3 separate regions of the Homo sapiens genome follow, and regions 1 and 3 are each linked to region 2. The links come from fine-mapping of genetic effects on gene expression. A gene starts in region 2. Each other region holds a variant in brackets. All regions are shown on one strand. Distances are between the middles of the regions. Region 1 overlaps WRNIP1 (WRN helicase interacting protein 1). Region 2 holds the start of MYLK4 (myosin light chain kinase family member 4). Region 3 overlaps MYLK4 (myosin light chain kinase family member 4).

Region 1 (4,243 bases), 33 kb after region 2:
TTTTATAACTCCAGTGAGACAAAGACCCACCCCCAGAGTTGTGATTATTTTTGTATATGCCACCTAGTTCATAGTTACCCACTAGTAGGATCCAGTGATGTTTCTGCATCAGAGTGAAGGAATTTCTAAATGAGAGCAAACTCTCTGCCATGCATTGACATCGGGGTTCTATAGAAGTCGTCAGATTTCAGGTTATAAAGCAGTGTGTAATAAAAGCAAACATGGAAGGTAGCATAGAATAATACTAGTATCTATCACTGATGCAAAAGAATCTTTTTACAGTGCCTGCTCTGTGCCAGGCGTGTGTTATTTAATACAGCCCTGTGAGGTAAGTGGTCTCGTTTTTCCCATTTTACAGATGAGAAACCTGAGGCACAGTGAGGATCAGGAACTTGCCCATGGCCCATGAGCTTGGGGGTCCAGCCCAGGCTGTTTGGTCCCAGAGCCTGTGCTCTTGTCCATTATACTGGTGGTATTGCCCCTGGCATTGACAAAGTGGGAAAAGATGACTAACCTGTGTAGGGGGAGTTTAAATTTGACATAAAGTGGTGTGGGTAGTTTCTTCCAGCCCCCATGCCCGTGAGTTTAGCCAGGCCTGTTACCTGCTACCCTCTTCCCCGCCTTCCTCCACCCTGCAGAGGAGCAGAGCGTAGCCTGAGTGCCTGGGCCAGCAGGGTGAGGGAGTGGGCCAGAACCATGCAGATGTCATCCAGGACACCCTCTCGGCCAGTGTCCATAGCACTCTGACTTCACCAGGGGAGCCCTGCACAGGAGACACTCAGTTTGTTCTCAGAAATCCAGTAGCTGGGCTGACCCATCCATCTGCCCTGGCTCTCAGAAACCAGAATCACTCAGGCTGAGCCGTGGGTCCTGCAGGTCTTTCCCCTGTGGGAGGCCAGCATCTTCGCTTGCTCTCTTCTCCACCTGAAGACCAACTGTCATCTTACCAGCGAGCTCAGCTGCCAGGGTTTGTGGCTGGCGCCAGTCGTATTGTGGACATGGGCTTATGCTGAGCACAGACCAGGTGCTCCTCTGGGAGGAGTGAGACTCACGGGAACACCATCCTCCGCTTTCTCGTGAGGAGGGTGCCCCCTCCTTGAACTTACCTAAGGGACGATGGCCAGAGAATAGTGAAATGTATGCAGGTGCCACTGCTTAGTTCCTGAGAACTGTTTAGCTGTCATTTTTTTGCCCTTAAATATGCCTTTTTTTAAAGCACATTTCACTGATTTCATGTGAATCTAGGGTAAAAATGGAGTAGTAAGACCAGGCGGTGAGAGAGTGGGCTTCCGTCCACTTCAGGGCGGAAGCTGGTTAGTCCACGTGTCGGTCCTTCTGGGACCCTGCCACACAGGTGTCCCCACACCAAGGCTGGCAGAAGGAGGTTTAAATGACCACAGGCTTCGGATATCAGAAAGGCAGCTGGAAATGACACTGAGGAACAGATGGGCTATAACAGCTGCCCTTGCCACTTGGCTCTACATCCTCCTGGCTCCGAGCAGGCCCACCGTTGCTTTTCCTCCAGTAGATGGTGGGCCACGGGATAGAGCCAGAACAGAAGACTCGTCCCCCTCCACTCTTGTCTCTGGCAAATCCACCAGCTGGGAGGACCACCTTTCCTCCCTCCTGCCTCTGTGCGTGTGCGTGCACTCCATGTCGACAGCCACAGGTTTCTGCTGCAGCAGCCTCTTCCCCTGAATAGGACTGGGATTAAGCCCCAGCAGCTGGTGCACCCCACTCAGAGCACGGTTAAGGCAGCTGCCCAAACCTCTCCTCGGCTTTCTCAGGGCCTTTATTCGTTCAGGCTTTCTGGAAGTCAGCTGGCGGAGGTGAAGATGGCTTGGGCGCCCCTCCTGTGAGCTCTGTGTGAGTGGTGCTCTTTGTGATGTCAGGTGAGGAGCATTACAACTGCATCTCCGCCCTGCACAAGTCCATGCGGGGCTCAGACCAGAACGCCTCCCTCTACTGGCTGGCTCGCATGCTCGAGGGAGGAGAGGACCCACTCTACGTGGCACGGAGGCTTGTCAGGTTTGCCAGCGAGGACATAGGTGAGTGTGATGGGAGGGTCCCGGAGTCCTATGTCCATGAGGGTGGGGAAATGGCTAACAGTTACATCGTGGCTTTTTTTTTTTTTTTTTTTGCAGGGCGGGGTGGGCGGGGGTAGCAGGAAGAATGTCTCAGGGCTATGTGAGACTGGCAGGAGAAGATAAGACTTTATGCCTGAGCTCAGTCGTTTA[T/G]TTCCTGGTGTATGTGCTTTTGAATGTTTATGTTCATAAAGTCACCATTTTCTGTTTCCTCTTCGGGAATGTTTTTACTAACATGAGTGGCTATTCAGAGTATTGCAATAGATGAGCTGCTTTTAAATTTGCTTTAAGTCAGGTGTTCAAGGTTTTCTTTGGACAGCTCCCAAGGTAGAAATGGAAGACTCTAGACACTATATGAAGAAAAAGATCAGGAAAGCTCTCCTCTTCTTTGGTCTTAGGGGATGTTTTGTTTTTAGTGTTTCCATCCTGGTGAATGTCTCCATAGCCTTCACTTCTTATGTTTGTTATACAGAGACTCATGTTTTTCTAGATGCAGAGTTTTTATCCACAAGGAAACAGTTCTTAACACCACACAGTAACCACTCTCAATATTTCTTGCATAAGTTCATGGGATCAGAGACTAGAGCTAAGTCAGGCTGTTTTGCTACATGGGATTGTTTTGGTCACCAAGTGTACAAGCAGTGGTGGTCTGTGGTCGCCTGCACATAGGCCAGGAGGACAGTGTGTGTCATGACTGAAACTCTCCTTTGTCTCTGTGTGTGGCAGGTCTGGCAGACCCGTCTGCGTTAACACAAGCGGTTGCTGCCTACCAAGGCTGTCATTTTATAGGCATGCCTGAATGTGAGGTAAAGTAATCAGCTCATTTCTTGCAAATCACTTCTTTTCTCTCTCGTGCTCTGTCCCTTTGTAGATTTGAATAAATGTCCCTCCTTCACCATTGGTGTATTGGACCCACTGAGTATGCTGCTTGGCTTTGGAATTCCAATTGTAGACTCTTAGACTCCTAGAGAGGGAAACCTTCTGTGTCAACGAGGTCATGTTTCAAACTGTTCTCGGGATTCCGGGGTTCAGAGCACATGCTCCATATGTTCCAGGGAGCAGAAAGGTTAAAGGAGCTGAACAGCAAAGCCTCTGCAAGTTCGCCCCCAGAGCAGCTTCATATTCATCTCTTTTATATATTGGGGGCTTAAGAAAAATTTAATGTAGTAAAAAGTCCTTCAGTTAAAAAAAAAAATGAAAACCACTCACCTGGTTTGCCTCTCGTTTCACCTCATGAGAATTTCTTCTGTCTGTCGTAGGTGGTTATCCAGACTGTAGGCGCAAAAGGGGGATAATAAAAGCATGTGGGGATCTTCTCAGAATTACCTAGAGCTGTGTATCAGAAGGGGCTCTGCAGAACAGAAGCTTGGCATCTTGCTAGTAAAATGTGTCCTCTGTGTCATTGGTAGGTGCTTCTGGCCCAGTGTGTGGTCTACTTTGCCAGAGCCCCAAAGTCCATTGAGGTGTACAGCGCCTACAACAACGTCAAAGCCTGCCTGAGGAACCACCAGGGGCCACTGCCCCCCGTGCCCCTGCACCTGAGGAACGCGCCCACTAGGCTGATGAAGGATTTGGGCTATGGCAAAGGCTACAAGTACAACCCCATGTACAGCGAGCCTGTGGATCAGGAGTACCTGCCTGAAGAGTTGAGGGGGGTAGATTTCTTCAAGCAGAGGAGGTGCTGACTCCTCAGGGCACGACAGCAGAAGGATGTTGCTTTTTTAAGGGAGGGCCAGAAAGAAAGTTAGTGGATTGCAAAGTTGGTTGCCTGGTGGAAGTTAGAACAGACCAACATTTTGTGCCAGAAATTTAAGAGTTCCATAGGTGGAGGCGCAGTTCTTTCGAATAAATGTGTAACTTTGAAATTGTGTTCATTTGCACTCGGTGCAGCGGTTATGCTTATGAAAATACCTGGCAGCTTTGTGCAATGAATTAATGTTATAAGGAATTATCTATTTTGTCATAGTATTTAAGTCATAATGTCATTTCAGAATTCAGTTCTGTAGGATTTTCTTTTCTTTAAAAAATGTATATTCTGGGTAGTTTTAATTGGTAAAAAAATGTAATTGTGATTTAATACTGCATAGTGTTTTGGGTATTTTTTTTATATGCAAAGGTCTTACGAGCCAATAAAACTATTTCAAAGTACTCTTCGATTC
Region 2 (4,243 bases):
CTCACTGAAGCAAAGTGGAATGATGCCTATTCATAAACTTTCCTTAATTGTACTCACAAGCGGCTCCATGACATTAGAAAAGATAAGATAGAATGAATACTTTTTAGGAGACTAAATTAGAACATGATTACCTCATTATGTCCAGATCTTGAATCCTGGTCCCCAGAATTTTTTTCCAGAAAACACTTCACTTTCTCCACCTCTTCCCTGCACTGAAAAAAGGCCATTTTCTCCAGCTGGTTGCTGTTATAACACGTGTTGAATTCTTCCAGCCTCTTCACTTTTAACATCTTAGTAGTGAGTCCGATTAAGCTACTTTCTGGAGTGTGGTTTTCGTCTCCCTCTGTCTCCGATTTATAAATCAGGACACAATTATGACTCTTCAGTGCTTCTTTCTCTTGACTGCAAAGAAAGGAAACACAAAAAGTTCTCATCACGTATTCATGCATTTGACTTCTTGAGAAAATGACCAGTGAGAATTTGGAAGTCCCTTCTGTTTAAACTGGAGAGAGGATCCAAAATCAGGAAAAGAAATACTAACATTCATATTGAGTTTCCAACATTGGAACTTTAAAAGGAAAAAAAATTTTTTCACTTTAAAACTACAAAAGCAAACAGTAAGAAGCAATGTCAAGATTCACTGGTGATGAAATATGCTCCTTATTGCACAAAACAAGCCGTAGATCAAGTGGCCAGCTTGGATGTAAATTATAAAGTATCTTTGGGTTTAATTGGAACCGCAGGTTTTGCAGCCCCGTGGGAAGGGCTTATCACAGAAGGGGTCTCTCTGCTTCCCCTGGCCTCCCTCTGCAGAGGGATCGCTCCCGAATGAGTCCTTTTCCAGAACTCTTCTCTACCTATGCCTTAAAATGTGTGGTGTTTATTTGTGAAAAGAAATTTATTTCCTTACAGTCTTCTCACGTGGACAGCACTCCCAGATACCTTTCCTTGCATCTGCATTAACAGCTATGTACCGAGAAGTTCAGAGTCTTTTCACTCTCCTTAAAATACTTTCCTCGCAAATGAAGTAATGCAGCATACATAATTCGCTTTGATACTAGAGACATATACGCATGTCTATATGTACACATCACTTGATTGCATAGAGAGGCAGGGAGAGGGAGAGACATTTGAATTTGTGCTAGTTCCGCATGGCTGACAACTGAGGCCCCCTGGTGGAGATTTTCCGAAAAGCGCCTCTTCGAGCATTTTCTCCGCTTAAAAACCGTATTGTGATTCTCATCAGAAAACTTAATATTTTGTTTTGTCAGTTCCTATAGTAAAATGATACTCTTGAGTTCCAAAGTGTTTAAAATTCACTGCTCTAACAAATTATACTTATCCACATAAAGAGCTTACATTCAAACAAATAAAAATGCAAATATTAATACTATCAACCAGAGCTCTACAGATATATTACAGATCATTCTTAGCATTCTTTCAAATTGCCCTGAAAAAATTATTAAAATAAGGAAACAAATGCATGGCTATTTCTAAGGCAAACTACGACTAAAATACTATGGTTAATTGCAGATGAAACTCAAGTTGGATCAGGAAGCCACACAAAATTAATGTATTAAAACAAAAGCTTAGGATTAAGATACAATAATTTTGCAAAGAAATATTAAACATTAAGCTCTACCTGAAGTTTGGTACAATTTGTTATTGAAGGTAACTTAGAAAAAAGGGGAGGAGATTTGAGAGGTTATAACAATAAACAAAGATAATTACCATTGATAGGATCACATCGAAGAGCTTGAGCCACTCCAAGTCTAGAGCATACATTCCAGAAGATAAAGAGAAATTTTGCAGAATTCAAACTGACTATGAAAGTCTCTGGTAAAAGTTTTGACTCTCAGTCGTATAAATCTTCTGAAAAGACAAGTGTCCACTACGAGAGGAAGTATCTTCTCTCTCAAATGCCACTTTCAGCCCCTGTTTAAATTAATATGGCTCTTGATCTCACGTTGCTCAGCTGTTGCCTTCTTAGTCAGATGGGGAAGAATATTAATTTTAGACACCAGGCTTTTCAAGGCCAATGGCTCCATTTCAGAGGTCAGGTAAGGAGAGGATGAACCGGGAACACTGGATGAAATATCACCTTCACCTTTCCCTCGTATCATTGTGTCAATACTCTCGGATTTACAAAGCTAGATTTGTCCTCGGCAATCATCTGCCTGGACCTTCTGCCCCTTTCAGACTCAGGATTATTTAAGTGCTCATTAAATTTCCCCCAGTAGGGAAAATGCCAGGTGTGGCAACCCCACAGCCACCTCTGTTTGCCCATCTTACGCTTTGAGCATATCCAACTGCAATATAGAAGATCTTCTGAAAGCAGTTAGCAAGTTTGTTTTATTTTTCTCAGTTCTTAAAGATGTTTGCAAAGTCTCCAACCATTTCTAGCTCTAGGGAAAGGTCAAAGGCACAGGCATCCAGGAAACAGGAATAAATTTTTCATAAATTCTCCTTAAGCAACACTAGGACTTCATCCGTAGTTTTCTGCACAGACCAAGAAAGGGGAATTTCAACCCACCTGCCCGACTCTCACAGTAGTGCATCCCTAGATTCACTGAAGTGGCATAAAACTTTGATTGCCCAGAGGCTGGACTTTGCAGTCTTGAAAACCCTGCAATTTTTCAGGGCCTGGCCAATTGTCACCTCTTATTTGGAGCCTGTGTTAGCCCCTCTATGCCCCATTCTAACACCAGCCTCTGCTGCTCTTCTGCTTCTTTTAAAAAAAAAACCTTATTTTTAATTCAGATCGATGCATTCCATGTGAAATAAAAATACATATTTTTCCATTTTATGTAGTATTAATGAATTACAGCAAAATCTTTTTTAAAACACAAAACGCTTGTTATTTTTCAGATTGGAGAGCTTTGTTCTTCAGCAAAAGTAATGAAGTGGAACTATAAATTTGTGGAGATAAATTATCTGACAAAAGTATTATACAAAGACTAAGCTGGTTTGAGGTTACCAATTTTGTTAGTATAATTAAATTGTGTAGAAGTACTGATAAGGCAACAAATGCCCTGCCAGAGGCAAGATGTGTGTGGGCTGCTGCTGATCCAACCACATCCTCCACCCGGACCACCACCACGCAAAAGCAGACTTCCTATCTCGTTGGCTCCAGCAAACCAACCACAGGCTTGAGTGAGCCAGAGGCCAGGAGAATCTGCTCCTTAGCTTATTTTTTTGTAATAAACTTTTCCTTTTAGAGTAGTTTTACATCTACAGAAAAGGTGCAAAGGTAGTTCAGAGTTCCCCTTGCCCTGCACCCCGAATCCTCTGTTTTTAACATCTTACGTTGGTATGGTATACTTGTCACAATTAATGAACCATGGTGAACGTTATTATTAACTAAACTCAATACTTTATTGTTGCTGGGTTTTTTTTTTCCCCAAATGCCCCTTTTCTGTTCCAGAATCCCATGCAGGATTCCACAGTACATTTAGAATCAGTAGGATTTATGATAGATTGGGTATGGGGTATGAAAGAAAGATGGTAGACACCTTTGCATATTTTCTTCTGAGCACTTGAAAGACAGAGTGAACATTAACTGAGATGGAGACGGCTGTGGGAAGGGCAACTCTGGAGGGAAAGGTCAGGCATGAAGTCTTTGGCAAGTCCATTAAACGTTCAAGTTGAATAGGCTGTGGAGATAGAAACTGGAGTTCCGGGGAGGGGTGTAGGCTGGAGATAAGAATTTGGAAGGCATCCACATATAGACATTTCCATGCACAATATACATTCAATACATATTTGATTAATGACTAGATAGAATGATCTTTAATTGTGTCTACTTGCCCTAAAAAGCAAGTCAATTAAAATAATCCATGCTAAAAGTGACTGATTGTCTGGTTCTGCTGCATCACACTGTTCCCAGCTTCCGATGGCATACAGGACAAGCACACTGCTGGCACAACCCTTGACCACAAAAAAACAGGTTATACATGCATACTCATTCTGGTCTATCAGCCTAGCCTCAGGATCCTAAGTCCATACCCATAAAATGTTCTGCATGCTTAAAGATGCTCTTATACCCGGAAAAATTCATTAGTGAGGAATATGAGCAGGCCCAGGAACACTTTTCCAGTATTTCCATATTTTGGAGTTATACTTCTCTAAAAAATACCAACATCAGGAAAACAGCACCCTACAGAGCCATGGAAAAGAATCCCTTGATTTTTTTCAAGGGACATTTCCATTAGCTGAGTAAGAGACTGTGTTGTCAAAGGAGCCA
Region 3 (4,243 bases), 71 kb before region 2:
GTTACCTCTTCTCCTTAATCAGAAGCTTAGAGATGAACTCCTTGGCCTCCTCCGAGATGTCCTGAAATTCTTCATCCTCTAAGTCCCACCTGCAGGCCAGGATGTTGTTCAGCGTCTCAGCATCATTGTCACCCAGGAAAGGCGACAAACCGCTAAGTCTGGAGGACACGGGGTCCAGAGTGAGTATTTTTTAAACAGCCTCAACCCCTTTCCATACAGATTGCTTTTCTGGTTGTGCCATTTAAAGGTGAGAGAAGGAAAATAACCTAATCCTGAAGCATAATTTTATAACATATTATTGTAATCAAGAAAATGCTTGCCGCCCCCACCCAACTCCTAACTGAACAACTGCAGCAATAACAGAATATGAATATGAATATCAGCTTCCTTTTTAAAGCACTTTTCAGCTTGCAAAGTGCTACTACATGCTCAGATGGCAAACGCTAGGCATGTCACCTCTGAGGGGTGAGGCTAGCCTGAGTCATTTAGGAGATCAGTTTTTTTTTTTTTTTTTTGAGACGGAGTCTCGCTGTGTCACCAGGCTGGAGTGCAGTGGCGTGATCTCGTTTCACTGCAACCTCCACCTCCTGGAAGCAATTCTCCTGCAGCCTCCCGAGTAGCTGGGATTACAGGTGCATGCCACCACGCACGGCTGATTTTTGTATTTTTAGTAGAGATGGGGTTTCACCATGTTGGCCAGGATGGTCTCAATCTCTTGACCTCGTGATCCGCCCACCTCAGCCTCCCAAAGTGCTGGGATTACAGGCTTGAGCCACCGCGCCAGGCCATGTGAGCTTTTTAAATTAATTTTTGGCTTTTAGGTTGTGTCCTAGGAGTTAAAGTGATTAATGAAGAGGACACACATTTACTTTTCCAAATGATGTGCAGGGAAAGAATTCACTCCTTTCACCCACAGGAGTCAACAAAACCTAGAAGGCAACTGAGGATGGGACAGTGTTATTTATTTTTTAAATACCCCAATTGGGGCTTTTATTTAAAACGGCAAAACCTCAGAAAATATGCATGGAGTTGGAGAAGGGTCAGAGACAGAGGAGAGCTACTCACAGCATATAGGCGATGACCCCCACACTCCACATGTCAGTGGGAAATGAAACAAAATCATAGTTCACAACTTCAGGGGCGAGAAATTCTGGGGTTCCAAAGTTCACCTTCAGCTTCTCTCTGGGTTTGTATCTGCAATTTAAGAGACAAAGTGGAAGGATGGACGTGTCGATCAAAAATCGTGAACACTGAAATGATGTAGTCTATGAGACAAAATGACTTCAGCCATACAGCAAACTTCAGACAAACAAACATTGAAGGAAATCAAACAATCAAGCAAGAGGCTCAAAAACTTGTAAAGAGGCCCCAGAAAATTTAAAAGTCAAAATTCATACTAGGAAACCTTAAAAGCTGAACCAGTTGTTGGAGAAGCTGCTGTGAATAATGAGAACATCTGAATTACAGAAGATGACAAGAGGAAAACTGATATAGTCATTGACATGGGGATGATGTGAATAAGCCTGTAAAATGAATAAACACAGTACTGCAATAATTTACAACATCCATTTTATATGTGTCGTTAATGTGCTGAATTGTTAATGTGTCCACGTAAACTCTTTGTTCCCTGAAGAATCTTTTATGTGCCAGAACCCTTTGCAAACTTGCTTACGTTGTTAATATTTTTAAAGTAAATCTTCTCTGTACAGATGGATCAAATATGAAAGAGGGGACAAACTCTTGCAAATGCTAAATTAATGGCTTCTAATTTAATAAACTTCACTGTATTAGGTTTTAATTTTTTATACTTTTTACTGCATGCATTATAGAAACTTCTAAACACTCAAGTCTCAAATTTAGCAAGTTAAGGCCAAACATAATTTTTGTTAAATTAATTATAAATGAGATCATGAAACCAAAGAGCAGATCAGATATATGTTTGCAAAGGAAGGGCAACCATCATGTCCCCCAGCTCCATTCGTACACCTATGTCCAAATAGACATACCTTCTGGCCAATCCAAAATCAATAATTTTTATTTGCTTAGCATCCCGATTCACACACAGGATATTCTCAGGCTGCCAGGAGAAAGAGACACATTAGCAATGAAAACAACCATCATTCACTCAAATTGTCCTTGAACCACAACTAAAAATACAACGATGCTCAGAAAAAACATATCAGGCCTTTCACTTCGGGGCGGGCTTGTCCGTGTGGGTACTTTCTCCTTTAATTATGTGGTGGATGAGGTTGCGGGTATCCTGCCAACCCTGCATTATCCAGC[C/T]TGTCCTCTGCACGGCTTCACAGTTCACCATAATGCCTGAGTTCAGGCAGAGGCCTTGAGGGGAGCAAGAAAAGGAGGTTGCTTCAGTCCTTCCCAAATGTGCTGTGGAGGCCCGCTCAGGCCTGACATCTGCCCCTCTAAATTATTCAGTATGAATTTCCCCTTCTTGGAGAAATATTTTTCCCAAGATTGATGAGTTCCAAGGGAATTGACCTGCTCCATTCAAACAGCCACACTGAACATGCACTGTCACGTGAACGTTCCGGCCTCCAGAGCTTCCCTTTGCTCAACGCCTATGGGAAAGTCGCACGGCAGAGGAGGGCTTTTCTCTCCAGTCGTTCTTCAGTCTCAGCAGTTCCAAGGTTTTGCTGAGTTTGGTCTCAATGCCTAAAACCCCTGACTAAGTGTTCCCTTGGAGCTAGGCCCTGGTAAGACCTTAGCCTGCTGACCTGACAGTCTTGGGGTGCAGGGGGAGAAAATGGGGTGTAGTGCAGCCACTCAGTGTTCACAGAATGCCTTACAAGTGCACCTAATGTTTACTGGGGTAGAAAAACAGAGGTCTTGGGAAAGTAAGAGATTTGATTTAAAGTCAAGGCCATTTATAAAAGAGAAAAAAAGTTTTCAGAGTTAAGAACCCTCAGTCCCAATTCTTTACAAGCTGGAGGGCACCATCCCAGAAGCCAAATGCCCAGGATCCCGTTCCTCAGCCTTTAGTGGGATCAGGCTCCCCTCCCCAACCTGTCCAGGTGGAGAAGAGGTTCCAATGAGATCAGAAATTCAGAAACACATTATGAAATGACATAATGTCTCCTTATCAATATTCAATAGTACATTTGGTTGGGCAGAATATCTTTGGAAGCCCTTTTCTAAACTATCTCTAAAACAGATGTTTGTGAGTAAAAGTCATTATAGAGAAGGGGGTGCTACGTGAACCATTTGGTTTCATGCTTAAATCACTGATGGATCATGTATAAAGCTGTCCAATTGTGAAGGAGTACTGTGGCATCAAAAAGTTTGCAGGATATAGAGAAACCGTTTTGAGGGCATTTCAATAAGTTAGCCTTTTTATGACGATAAAATTAAACAATGTTCATTGGATAAATTTTGCAAAACAGAAAAATATAAAACAGACTGTTTGTAAGTCACCTATAATCTCCCCCCACATACTGACAATCACTCAATATTTTTGGCCCTTTTCCTTCCAAGGAGCTTTCAGAAAAGCAGCTCCTTAAGGACCCATCCAGCTGTCACCTTTATGATGATCTCTGCATCCAAGCCATAACTAAAACTGCCCACTGCAGGTCCTCAATCAATGTTATGAAGCCTCATATGGAGTCATTTGACTTACAATAGGTTTGCTCCTAGTTCCAGTTGCCAATCAAATCCCTGTAGGGATATCTGCAGAATATCTACATTCAATGAAAATGCTCCATGAAAGCATGCATTATCAAACTCAGTTCATAGTGAGGGTTTTGCTAATGATTTTTAGCCTCTGACTTTGTCATTTTATAAACCACTTCCTCCTGCTCTCCTCCTGCTCAAAAGTGAATGGGAAAGGCAAGGCACATAAATCAAGACAGTGAGGGAAGCCAAGTTATAGGAAGAGAGGCCCATGGAAACCTATTTCAGGAGGCTAAATTTATTTAGCTATGCAATCCCTAGTGAATGCAATAGATGGGATGTTATATAGATTGTATATTTTATGTTACTGTCACGCTGTGCAAACAGGGAAATGAGAAAATGACCAAGCCACACAAGACGTACTTTATGATACTTAGTCCCAATATGGGACTTGATCAGGGTTGTTGGGCCTAGGTCTTTTATTGGTTGTAACTAAGACTACATACAGTCCGATTCTAGGAACTTCATAATGAGACATGAGAGAGGTAAAGAGGGAAGGGGCAATCAATAGGAGGAGAAAGAAAGGCGGCTTGGCTTCTGTGTGCTTTCCACCATTGGC

The links.
Region 1: its variant is fine-mapped to the expression of MYLK4 in lung (GTEx, PIP above 0.99).
Region 3: its variant is fine-mapped to the expression of MYLK4 in tibial nerve (GTEx, PIP above 0.99). The same link has a PIP of 0.9 or more in T cells, adrenal gland, aorta, atrial appendage, blood mononuclear cells and breast.

Annotation. Positions count from the first base shown.
Region 1 is chr6:2,781,514-2,785,756 of GRCh38, forward strand. WRNIP1 (WRN helicase interacting protein 1) reads left to right here. Exons shown (of 7, transcript NM_020135.3): 5 at 1,893-2,048; 6 at 2,811-2,890; 7 at 3,494-4,243. The coding sequence ends at 3,769. Among named protein-coding and RNA genes, the nearest start is that of WRNIP1, 18 kb to the left of the region's middle. The variant T/G (reference allele first, on the strand shown) is at 2,238.
Region 2 is chr6:2,749,005-2,753,247 of GRCh38, forward strand. It overlaps MYLK4 (myosin light chain kinase family member 4), which reads right to left and starts at 1,918. Exons shown (of 13, transcript NM_001012418.5): 1 at 1,732-1,918; 2 at 132-402. The coding sequence starts at 290. RefSeq lists a silencer at 3,491-3,785.
Region 3 is chr6:2,678,215-2,682,457 of GRCh38, forward strand. MYLK4 (myosin light chain kinase family member 4) reads right to left here. Exons shown (of 13, transcript NM_001012418.5): 8 at 2,007-2,077; 9 at 1,066-1,194; 10 at 6-158. Among named protein-coding and RNA genes, the nearest start is that of LINC01600, 46 kb to the left of the region's middle. The variant C/T (reference allele first, on the strand shown) is at 2,284.